2 separate regions of the Homo sapiens genome follow, and region 2 is linked to region 1. Evidence: fine-mapped QTL for protein levels in blood plasma. Region 1 holds a variant in brackets. A gene starts in the other region. All regions are shown on their reverse strands.

Evidence for each region. PIP is the posterior inclusion probability: the model's chance that the variant is causal. Protein levels are from antibody-based Olink assays in UK Biobank. Linkage for the fine-mapping came from a reference panel and not from the study's own genotypes, which makes the PIPs less certain.
Region 2: it holds the start of SLC39A5, and the variant in region 1 is fine-mapped to the plasma level of the SLC39A5 protein (UK Biobank, PIP above 0.99).

The regions. Positions count from the first base shown.
Region 1 is chr7:73,588,404-73,596,933 of GRCh38, reverse strand. It overlaps MLXIPL (MLX interacting protein like), which reads left to right. Exons shown (of 17, transcript NM_032951.3): 10 at 2-69; 11 at 145-295; 12 at 455-570; 13 at 662-781; 14 at 965-1,092; 15 at 1,174-1,297; 16 at 2,531-2,660; 17 at 2,951-3,732. The coding sequence ends at 3,069. Among named protein-coding and RNA genes, the nearest start is that of TBL2, 14 kb to the right of the region's middle. RefSeq lists an enhancer at 8,363-8,530. The variant G/TG (reference allele first, on the strand shown) is at 4,177.
Region 2 is chr12:56,226,466-56,230,499 of GRCh38, reverse strand. SLC39A5 (solute carrier family 39 member 5) reads right to left here and starts at 449. Exons shown (of 13, transcript NM_173596.3): 1 at 378-449; 2 at 205-260. It overlaps NABP2 (nucleic acid binding protein 2), which reads right to left. Exons shown (of 7, transcript NM_024068.4): 7 at 646-1,486. The coding sequence ends at 1,287.

The sequences.
Region 1 (8,530 bases):
GCTAAGCCGGAGCAAGCCCTGGAGCCACCACTTGTATCCAGCACCCTCCTCCGGTCCCCAGGGTCCCCGGTAAGATCTCGGGCACTGGGCGGTGGGGCTGTGCCCACGGCCTTCAACCCGACTCTCCGCCCTTCTCCACCCCAGCAGGAGACAGTCCCTGAATTCCCCTGCACATTCCTTCCCCCGACCCCGGCCCCTACACCGCCCCGGCCACCTCCAGGCCCGGCCACATTGGCCCCTTCCAGGCCCCTGCTTGTCCCCAAAGCGGAGCGGCTCTCACCCCCAGCGCCCAGCGGTAAAGAGAGGGGTTGCAGGGATTGGGGGAATCTAGGGGATGAGGGGAAGAGGAGGAAGAAGAAGGGGACTGGGTCTGGGGCCAGATGAGAGGAAGGGGGCAATGGGGACCCTTTCCCCTGGGTCGGTCTTTCTGTGGGTCTGTCTGTCCCTACCACAGGCAGTGAACGGCGGCTGTCAGGGGACCTCAGCTCCATGCCAGGCCCTGGGACTCTGAGCGTCCGTGTCTCTCCCCCGCAACCCATCCTCAGCCGGGGCCGTCCAGACAGCAACAAGGTGGGCACCATCCCCCACCCCAAGATCGGTTTGCTACCCCCAGGCCCTCCTGGGCTCCTTCCTAGGCTCACCCAACTCTCTGCTCCCCGAGACCGAGAACCGGCGTATCACACACATCTCCGCGGAGCAGAAGCGGCGCTTCAACATCAAGCTGGGGTTTGACACCCTTCATGGGCTCGTGAGCACACTCAGTGCCCAGCCCAGCCTCAAGGTGAGCCCCGGGCCCAGGCTGGCACCCCCAAAACCACAGGGCCCCTTTCTGGACCCCCCCCACCCAAAACTCAATTGCAGGGGAGTGCTCCAGACACTCTTGCCTCCTCCCATCCCAGTGCCTCAGTGGGTCCCAGGGTACAGCCTCTAGCACCTGCCTGAGCCCCCCTGGTGGCGTCTGCAGGTGAGCAAAGCTACCACGCTGCAGAAGACAGCTGAGTACATCCTTATGCTACAGCAGGAGCGTGCGGGCTTGCAGGAGGAGGCCCAGCAGCTGCGGGATGAGATTGAGGAGCTCAATGCCGCCATTAAGTAGGCAGGGTCCAGGCGGGTGCTGGGACCAGGGGGCCATGCCGCCTTACCCCCAGCCCCTGACCCCTGCCCTGCCCCCAGCCTGTGCCAGCAGCAGCTGCCCGCCACAGGGGTACCCATCACACACCAGCGTTTTGACCAGATGCGAGACATGTTTGATGACTACGTCCGAACCCGTACGCTGCACAACTGGAAGTTCTGGGTGGTATCCTCCCTCAAGCCCATGGCTGGGGGGCTGCAGGGGCTGTGGCAGGGTGAGACCAGGCTGGGCCTGGGATGGAGGCCTAGCTCTCCAGGCCGGGCAGGCTCAGAGCTGCTCCCAGGTGACAGGCTCTGGCTCTGCCCCCTGCTTCCATGCCCTGGCCATCTTGGCCAGCAAAATTGCCCAGGGATGGGGGGCTGGGAGCAGAGAGGGAAACTGAGGGAGGAGTCCTTGGGTAAGGGGAGCCTTGGCCCTGACCTCAGGAAGCCCCGAGGGCAGTTTGGGAGAATCTGAACTCTGGAGTGAGGACTACAGAAGACTTGGAATCCACTCCCTGATCTGGCTCAGGGGTCAAGTTCTTGACTGAGCCCAGGCAGGGAGCTCAGGGATGGGGGATGGTTCAGCACACAGTAAGGGCCGTGGAGGGGCAAGGAGGAGGGGACTGAGAGGCAGAGAGCTGGGAAGGTCTTGGCAGGACAGAAGTAGGGACTGCAAGCCAGGTGCGGTGGCTCACGCCTGTCATCCCAGCACTTTGGGAGGCCGAGGCAGGTGGATCACTTGAGGCCAGGAGTTCAAGACCAGACTGGCCAACATGGCAAAACCCCATCTCTACTAAAAATACAAAAATTAGCCAAGCGTGGTGGCATGTGCCTGTAATCCCAACTACTCGGGAGGCTGAGGCAGGAGAACAGCTTGAACCTGGGAGGTGGAGGTTGCAGTGAGCCAAGATTGTGCCACTGCATTCCAGCCTGGGCAGCAGAGTGAGACTCTGTCAAAAAAAAAAAAAAAAAAAGTCCGAGCACAGTGGCTCACGCCTGTAATTCCAGCACTTTAGGAGGCTGAGGTGGGTGGATCACGAGGTCAGGAGTTCGAGACCAGCCTGACCAACATAGCGAAACCCCGTCTCTACTAAAAATACAAAAATTAGCCAGGTGTGGTGGCGCACACCTGTAATCCCAGCTACTCAGGAGGCTGAGGCAGGAGAATTGCTTGAACCTGGGAGGCAGAAGTTGCAGTGAGCTGAGATCGTGCCACTGCACTTCAGCCTGGGTGACAGAGCGAGACTCCGTCTCAAAAAAAAAAAAAGAAGAAGTAGGGGCTGCAACATGAGTCATTGGGGTTCAACGTTAGACAGTGTCCAGGCCCTTTCTTCCCCTGGTTTGAACTGGGCATCAGGGCTCCACGTGGTGTGGGGGGACCAGCTGGACCACAGGCAGCTCCTTGACCTGGGCCCAGTTCAGCATCCTCATCCGGCCTCTGTTTGAGTCCTTCAACGGGATGGTGTCCACGGCAAGTGTGCACACCCTCCGCCAGACCTCACTGGCCTGGCTGGACCAGTACTGCTCTCTGCCCGCTCTCCGGCCAAGTACGTGAGCCATCTCCCTGCCTGCTAGAGGGACCCAGCCTCGGGGGTGGAGGGAGCATTCCACCCTGCTTAGATCCCACATCCAGCTTGCCATCAACACAGCCTAGGGTTGTGGCCACCCCGCATCCCCCAGATGGTCCTCTGGCCACCAGACGCCTGTAGACAGAGGTTCTAGGAGGGGGTGACAGTCTTGCCAACTAATACCTCCCCCTATCCCTTTGGTTCCACATCCAAGGGTAGGGCCCTGACCCCAGGAAGTGTCTGTCTCTCTCTCTCTGTCTCCCACCCAGCTGTCCTGAACTCCCTACGCCAGCTGGGCACATCTACCAGTATCCTGACCGACCCGGGCCGCATCCCTGAGCAAGCCACACGGGCAGTCACAGAGGGCACCCTTGGCAAACCTTTATAGTCCTGGCCAGACCCTGCTGCTCACTCAGCTGCCCTGGGGGCTGCTTTCCCTGGGCACGGGCTCCAGGGATCATCTCTGGGCACTCCCTTCCTGCCCCAGGCCCTGGCTCTGCCCTTCCCTGGGGGGTGGAGCAGGGTCCAGGTTTCACACTTGCCACCTCCTGGAGGTCAAGAAGAGCAGAGTCCCCGTCCCTGCTCTGCCACTGTGCTCCAGCACCGTGACCTTGGGTGACTCGTCCGCTGTCTTTGGACCGCTGTGTTTCAATCTGCAAAATGGGGATGGGGAAGGTTCAATCAGCAGATGACCCCCAGGCCTTGGCAGCTGTGACATTGGGGGCCTAGGCTGGCAACTCCGGGGGCTCAACGGTGGAAAGAGGAGGATGCTGTTTCTCTGTCACCTCCACTTGCTCCCCGACAGGTGGGGCACAGACCTCTGTTCCTGAGCAGAGAAGCAGAAAAGGAGGTTCCCTCTCTCTGCTCCTTCACTGCTGACCCAGAGGGGCTGCAGGATGGTTTCCCCTGGGAGAGGCCAGGAGGGCCTGATCCCAGGAGACACCAGGGCCAGAGTGACCACAGCAGGGCAGGCATCATGTGTGTGTGTGTGTGTGGATGTGTGTGTGTGGGTTTTGTAAAGAATTCTTGACCAATAAAAGCAAAAACTGTCTGCTGGTTTGTTGGTGTGCTGGTCAGTGTCTCACACTGGGATGGAGAGAGAGCCTGTTGGCAGTGGGAAGTGGCTTTGCAGAGGGCCTGGGCATTTACTCTGAGCTGGAAGCAGCTGGAGGGCTTTGAGTGGAGGTGGGACAAGATCAGATGTAGTGGTGGCGAGCGCCTGTAGTCCCAGCTACTCAGGAGGCTGAGGCAGGAGGATCGCTTGAGCCCAGGAGTTCGAGGCTGCAGTGAGCTATGATAGCACCACTGCACTGTAGAGTGGGCAACAGAGTGAGACCCTGTCTCAAATAACAACAACAAAAAAGGCTGGGCACAGTGGCTCACACCAGTAATCCCAGCACTTTGGGAGGCCAAGGCGGGAGGATCATAGACCTCATCTCAGTAATAAAAAAGAGAAAAATAAATAAAAGAAAATCGGATGTAACTTTTTTTTTTT[G/TG]AGACGGAGTCTCGCACTGTCACCCAGGCTGGAGTGCAGTGGCCCGATCTCGGCTCACTGCAAGCTCTGCCTCCTGGGTTCATGCCATTCTCCTGCTTCAGCCTCCCAAGTAGCTGGGACTACAGGCACCCGCCACCACGTCCAGCTGATTTTTTTTTTTTTTGTATTTTTAGTAGAGACGGGGTTTCACCGTGTTAGCCAGGATGGTCTCGATCTCCTGACCACGATTGTGATCCACCCACCTCAGCCTCCCAAAGTGCTGGGATTACAGGCGTGAGCCACCGCGCCCTGCCAGATGTAACTTTAAAAAAAAAAATTTTTTTTTTTTTGAGACAGAGTCTCGCTCTGTTGCCCAGGCTGGAGTGCAGTGGCGCAATCTCGGCTCACTGCAACCTTCGCCTCCCGGGTTCAAGCGATTCTCCTGCCTCAGCCTCCTGAGTAGCAGGGATTACAGGTGCGCACCACCATGCCCAGCTAATTTTTGTATTTTTAGTAGAGACGGGGTTTCACCATGTTGGTCAGGCTGGTCTTGAACTCCCGACCTTGTGATCTGCCCTCCTCAGCCTCCCAAAGTGCTGGGATTACAGGTGTGAGGCTGCCGCGCCCAGACAAAAAAATTTTTCTTATAAGAATAGAGTCAGCAGCCGGGTGTGGTGGCTCACGCCTGTAATCCCAGCACTTTGGGAGGCCGAGGCAGGCGGATCACAAGGTCAGGAGTTCGAGACCAGCCTGGCTAATATGGCAAAACCCGGTCTTTACTAAAAATACAAAAATTAGCCACATGTGCTGACACACGCCTGTAATCCCAGCTACTCAGGCTGGTCTTGAACTTTTGGGTTCAAGCAATGCTCCCGCCTTGGCCTCCCAAAGTGCCAGGATTACAGGCATGAGCCATGGCGTCTGGCCAGATGTAACTTTTTTACAGGAATCCCCTGGGTGCTGAGTTGAGACTAGGTGGATGCAGGGAGACCAGTTAGAGGACAGTTGCAGTCATCCAGGTGAGAGGTGATAGATTTGCTTCCTGGAGCTCCTCCCTCCATGGCCAGGAGACAGTTTGGAGAGGCTCGCTACCTTCAGAGTTGGAAGAAGGCAGAGCTGGGACCAAGGAGTGGAACCGACAGGGCATCCACTGGAACCACCCAGAAGGAGAATGTGCTCCCTTGGCGGGGCAGGTATGGAGGGTAGTGACCTCCCCGCTATGAGAGGTATGCATGCAGAGAGTGGATGGCCACTTAGTTGGGATGTCTTAGAAAAAACTGACAGCGGCCTGTGCGGTTGCTCACGCCACCCAACACTTTGGGAGGCCGAGGCGGGTAGATCACCTGAGGTCAGGAGTTCCGGACCAGCCTGGCCAACTTGGTGAAATCCCGTCTCTACTAAAAATACAAAAAAAATTAGCCGGGCATGGTGGCAGGTGCCTGTAACCCAGCTACTCGGGAGGCTGAGGCAGGAGAATCCCTTGAACCCAGGAGGTGGAGGTTGCAGTGAGCAGAGATTGCGCTACTCCACTCCAGCCTGGGTGACAGAGTGAGACTTCATCTCAAAAAAACATAAAAACAAAAAATAAAAAAACTGATCCTTCAGATGGGGCTGGGGTAGAAGGCCTCAGAGGCCCCAATATTTACTGAGTGCCTGCTATGGACTAGGCTGTGGTCTTGGCTCTGCAGATGCTGTTCACTACAGTATCTCTCTCTTTGTGGAGCTGACATTCCAGCCTGGCATGTTGGAATCCTCTCACGTTTCAGACCTTCTGGAGACATTTGCAGGACTGATGTATTCATGTTTATTTTTCATAGAGACAGGGTCTTGCTATGTTGCCCAGGCTGGTCTCACACTCCCTACCGCAAGTGATCCTCCCACCTTGGCCTTAGGCTTCCTGAAGTGCTGGGATTACAGGTGGCAGCCACCGTGCCTGGCCCATTTGCAGGATTTAAACAGCCTAAAGTATCTTCCATAGGTTTTCAGTTTCTCTCGTTCGTGCATAAGAAGAAGGAGAATCGCTGCCCGCAGATCTAGTATGGACTATGTGCCAAGCACTCCTATAAGCACTTTAGATTTTTGTTGTTGTTGTTATTTTTATTTTTAGTAGAGACAAGTTCTCACTAAGTTCCCCAGGCTGGTCTTCAGCTCCCAAGCTCAAGGGATCCTCCTGCCTTGGCCTCCCAAAGTGCTGAGATTACAGGCATGAACCACCACACCTGGCCACTTTATGTATATTAACTCACTTAATCCTCACAACACCTACCTCGTAGGCTTGCTGTGAGAACCTAAAAGGGTAAATATACACATATAGAGATTTACAGATTTATACATATATTTATAAATCTGTAAAATGGGGATAATAATTATATATTATATATATATTATGTTTGTATATTATGTTTAATAATATACAAAGATTATATTTATACATTATATTTAATATATTTTTATATATTATATTATATTTATAGTTTATATAAAATATGTATGAGTTAATATATATTCTACATATAAAGATATAGATTATATATAAATTTTTATATAGAGAATAAAGATTAAATAATTATATGTTAATCTATATATCTATATAATCTTTTTTTTTTTTTTTGAGACGGCGTCTCGCTCTGTCACCCAGGCTCGAGTGCAGTGGCGGGATCTCACCTCACTGCAAGCTCCGCCTCCCGGGTTCACACCATTCTTCTGCATTAGCCTTCCAGTAGCTGGGACTACAGTTGCCCACGACCACGCCTGGCTAATTTTTTGTATTTTTAGTACAGACGGAGTTTCACCGTGTTAGCCAGGATGGTCTCGATCTCCTGACCTCGTGATCCGTCTGCCTTGGCCTCCCAAAGTGTTGGGATTACAGGCGTGAGCCACTGCGCCCAGCCATATCTATATAATCTTTATATATAATATATAATATTACATTAATTTATATATTACAATTTGTATAACCTATACAATCTTTATATACAATATACTTTATATATTATATATAATATTTATATACAATATACTTTATATATTATATAAATCTTTATATACAATATACTTTATATATTATATATAATCTTTATATATTATAAATATATAGTTTTATATTTATAATATATAAATATATTACATTTTATAACTATATAGTTTTATATTTATAATATATAAATATATTACATTTTATAAAAATATATTTTTATATTTATAAAACCATATAAATATATTTTTATATTTATATTAATAAAACTATATAAATATATTTTATATTTATATTAATAAAACTATATAAATATATTTTATATTTATATCAATAAAACTATATAAATATATTTTATATTTATATCAATAAAACTATATAAATATATTTATATTTATATCAATAAACATAAATATATTTTATTTTTATATTAATAAATATAAATATATTTTATTTTTATATTAATAAATATAAATATATTTTATTTTTATAATAAATATAAATATATTTTATTTTTATATTAAATATAAATATATTTTATTTTTATATTAAATATAAATATATTTTATTTTTATATTAAATATAAATATATTTTATTTTTATATTAATAAATATAAATGTATTTTATATTTATAATATAAATGTATTTTATATTTATAATATAAATGTATTTTATATTTATAATATAAATGTATTTTATATTTATAATATAAATGTATTTTATATTTATAATATAAATGTATTTTATATTTATAATATAAATGTATTTTATATTTATATTATAAATGTATTTTATATTTATATTATAAATGTATTTATATTATAAATGTATTTTATATTTATATTATAAATGTATTTATAATATAAATACATTTATAATATAAATATATAATAAATATAAATATATAAATATATAAAATATATTGTTTATAATATATAGATTATATATAATATATAAGTTAAATATATTATATTTAATTTATATCTAATTTATCTATAAATTATATATAATATATACTTTAACAAATAAAGTACATATTTGTTTATAATGTATAAATATATTATAAATATATAATATAATTTATTATATATTATAATTAATATAATTATATATTACGATATAAATACATAATTATAATATAGTATATATGTATAATATATAATATGTAATATATAATTATATATTATAAATATACAATATAATTATATATACGTATTAAATACATATAAATATAATTATATATAATAGATAATATATATAATTTATAATATATATCATATAAATTATATATAATATATAATATAATATATAATATAATATATAATTATATATTATAATATATATAATATATAGTTATTATTCAGAGTTAGAAGAAGGCAGAGCTGGAACCGAGGCATGGA
Region 2 (4,034 bases), not on the chromosome of region 1:
ACCATTTTAGCCCTTTCCCTCATGTACTTCCACCCCACCTACCTTACAGTCTAGCACTAAACTTCATCTCCAACCCCCATCCCCATATTCCTTGGGAAGGTTGGACCCAGGTGTCCCTAACCTGGGGAGGAGGGGGGAAAAGGCAGATCAGTGGCAAGCCCAGATGCATGCATGGGAAATAAACTGTTCTTAGCAGTTTCTCACCCCAAGAAGAGAAAGAGCCAGAGCTCTAGGGATCGATGACCAAGAAAGGGGAAGCCCTGCGGGGGGAGAGGAAACAAGGATCTGGGCTCTCCTCTGATGTCTGACCTGGCCTAAAATCAGGCAAGCAAAGTCTGATCGGGGTGACTGGTCCAGGGGGTTGAGGTTGGCATTACCTGATAGCAGGAGACAAGGACACCCAGAGGAAGGGGGACACAACCTTCTTGGTTCCAGCTGGGGGGGCAGGCAGGCAGGCGGGCAAGGGTCACCTGCAGGGAGGGGGTAGGGGAGGGACACTACCTTAAAGGGGCAGGTCTGCTTTGCCTGGGCCTCCTTACCTGTAACCTATTTTCCTTCCACCTTCTAGGGACACCCCACCTTCCCAAATGCCTAGTTGCTAACCTCTTCCTTTTCCCACAGAAAGCAAAGGAGTCCAACACAGAGTAGAGTGGTAACATTTATTAGGAAGGAGAGACTTCAGTTAGACTCCCATGTCTCACACAGAAGAAACAGATGGTAACTGCCATTTCTTTCTTTCTTTCTTTCTTTCTTTCTTTTTTTTTTGAGATGGAGTTTCGCTCTTATTGCCCAGGCTGGAGTGCAATGGTGCAATTTCGGCTCACCTCAACCTCCGCCTCCCGGTTTCAAGAGATTCTCCTGCCTCAGCCTCCTAAGTAGCTGGGATTACAGGCATACGCCACCATGCCTGGCTAATTCTGTATTTTTAGTAGACACGGGGTTTCTCCATGTTGGTCAGGCTGGTCTTGAACTCCCGACCTCAGGTGATCCGCCCACCTCGGCTTCCCAAAGTGCTGGGATTACAAGCGTGAGCCACTGCGCCCAGCCAGTAACTGCCATTTCTAAAGAGGAAAGAGAGCAGGCAGAGGGTCCTGACTCCCAGGGGACAGGTAGTTCAGCTGGACAATGAGGGAGTATGAGATTAGGGTGGATAAGGACACTGCTCACCACCCTCCACTGAAGTTCAGTGGCTAAAATACTGCTACACCAGCCAATCAGTGGAAGGCTATCTTGCTCTCCAGGGGACACTTGGGATGTGGTTGGTGGCAGGAAGAAAGAATGTCATGCTATCTCTTGCTGCTCCTCCGGGTTTCTTTGCCGTTACTAACAGGGTTGCTGGAAGGGCCAGGCGGGCCTGCAGGTGTGTGGTTGGGCTGGCTTCGAGTGATTCGGGTGCTGGGTGGGTGGGAGGGAGTATGAGGGGGATGTGGGCCACCACCGGGACCTGGTGGGGCACTCAGTCCATTCCCATTCTGGTTCTCAGAGGCTAATTGTGGGAGGAGAAGAAACAAAGGAATTAGTTAACATAGGAGAGGGGTCCATCCCAAGGCCTGTCTCCATGCCCCAAAGAGTGGCACAGTCTTCACCATGCACAACTGCATCTTAATGCCAACTGGACCAAATGCAAAAGACTGTGGGCTGCGAGTATGAATGGAGCTCCAGAGAAGACTTACACGATCATTTAGGAAGTTGCTACATGAACCTCGGTACGGTATTTTTCTCTTGTAGTTATCTCACTATTATTGGGAATCAGACCTAGAATTAGCTGTTTAGTTCTAGGCTCAGGGACCTCTGACAAAAATGCCCCTTTACTGGGCCAGGCGTGGTGGCTCACACCTGTAATCTCAGTACGGTGGGAGGCTGACGCGGGTGGATCACGAGGTCAGGCATTCGAGACCAGCCTGGCCAACATAGTGAAACCCCGTCTCTACTAAAAATACAAAAAATTAGCTAGGTGTGGTGGCAGGCGCCTGTAATCCCAGATACTCAGGAGGCTGAGGCAGGAGGGTCGCCTAAACCTGGGAGGCAGAGGTTGCAGTGAGCCGAGATTGCACCATTGCACTCCAGCCCGGGTGACAGTGTGAGACTCCTTCTCAATTAAAAAAAAAAAAAAGGCCCCTTCACCAAAAGTGATTATAAAACTGGAGAAGCATGGCAAGGGGAAGGGCCTGAAGTCTCTGCGTTAAAATATGAGGCACTTAAAAAAAAGGTGTGTATGAGTGTACGATAATGATAATGTTCATTTTAGAAAATATAGATAACCATCAGTGAAAAGATTATTATTATTTTTTATTTATTTATTTTTTTGAGTTGGAGTTTCGCTCTTGTTGCCCAGGCTGGAGTGCAATGGAGCGATCCCAGCTCACTACAACCTCCGCCTCCCAGGTTCAAGCAATTCTTCTGCCTCAGCCTCCTGAGTAGCTGGGATTATAGGCATGAGCCACCACGCCTGGCTAATTTTGTATTTTTAGTAGAGATGGGGTTTCTCCATGTTGGTCAGGCTGGTCTTGAACTCCCAGCCTCAGGTGATCCACCCACCTCGGCCTCCCAAAGTGCTGGGATTACAGGCGCGAGCCACTGCGCCCAGCTAGTGAAAAGATTATTACACGTAATCTTACCCACCAAAGCTAATAACAAGTCACATTTTTGTGTATATAAATATTTATTTTTTAATTTTTACTGTTTTAGAGATGAGGTCTCACTTTGTCACTCAGGCTGGAGTGTAGTGGTGTGATCATAGCTCACTGCAGCCTCAAACTCCTTGCTCAAGCAATGCTCCTGCCTCAGCCTCCCAAGTAGCTAGGATGATGGGTGTGCACCGCTGCGTCTGGCTTATATTTTCAATGTTTGAAGCCAGGTGTGTGGGATGATTTGTTTGAGCTCTCACAACTCTGGACATACCACTGTCATTGAACTTAACCATGGCGTATTATAATCATTATCTCTCTCCTGTATAAACCACAAGCCCCTAAAGGCAGGTAGTGTGTTTTATTCCACGGCAAATAGTAGGTGCTCTAGAAACATTTGTTATATGAAGGCAGAGGTTTGCTTCTTGCATACAGTAGGGACTATGAACCCTAAATGGCATGGAAGTTATAGCCTAGTGGTTCTTTTTTTTTTTTTTTTGAGAAAGAGTCTCACTGTCGCGCAAGCTGGAGTGCAGTGGCATGATCTCAGCTCACTGCAACCTCCACTTCCCAGGTTCAAGCCATTCGCCTGCCTCGGCCTCCCAAGTAGCTGGGATTACAGGCTCCTGCCACCACATCTGGCTAATTTTTGTATTTTTAATAGAGATGGGGTTTCGCCACGTTGGCCATGGCTGGTCTTGAACTCCTGACCTCAGGTGATCTGCCAGCCTTGGCCTCCCAAAGTGCTGAGATTATAGGCATGAGCCACTGCGCCCAGCCAGTCTAGTTCTTAAACCATATCTCTACTGAACCCTGCTGCTCCACTGGACTAAGATATCTGCAGCCCATGGCTGGGCGCGGTGGCTCACGCCTGTAATCCCAGCACTTTGGGAGGCTGAGGTGGGTAGATCGCCTGAGCTCAGGAGTTCGAGACCAGCCTGGGCAACATGGTGAAACCCCGTCTCTACTAAAATACAAAAAATTAGCAGGGCATGGTGGCGTGCACCTGTGATCCCAGCTACTCAGGAGGCCGAGACAGGAGAATCACTTGAACCCAGGAGGCAGAGGTTGAAGTGAGCCGAGGTCACACCATTGCACTCCAGCCTGGGTGACAGAGACTCCATCTCAAAAAAAAAAAAATTAGCCGGGCATGGTGGCAGGTGCCTGTAATCCTAGTTACTTGGGAGGCTGAGGCAGGAGAATCACTTGAACCTGGGAGGCGGAGGTTGCAGTGAGCCGAGATCACGCCATTGCACTCCAGCCTGGTTGACAAGAGCGAGACTTCGTCTCAAAAAAAAAAAAAAAAAAAAAAAAAGGGGTCTGGGAGAATTGGGTGAAGGAGGATACACTGAGAAAAGAGAGATTTGGAAAAGGAATGAGGGAAATGCATCTTTCTAGGCTGAGGAG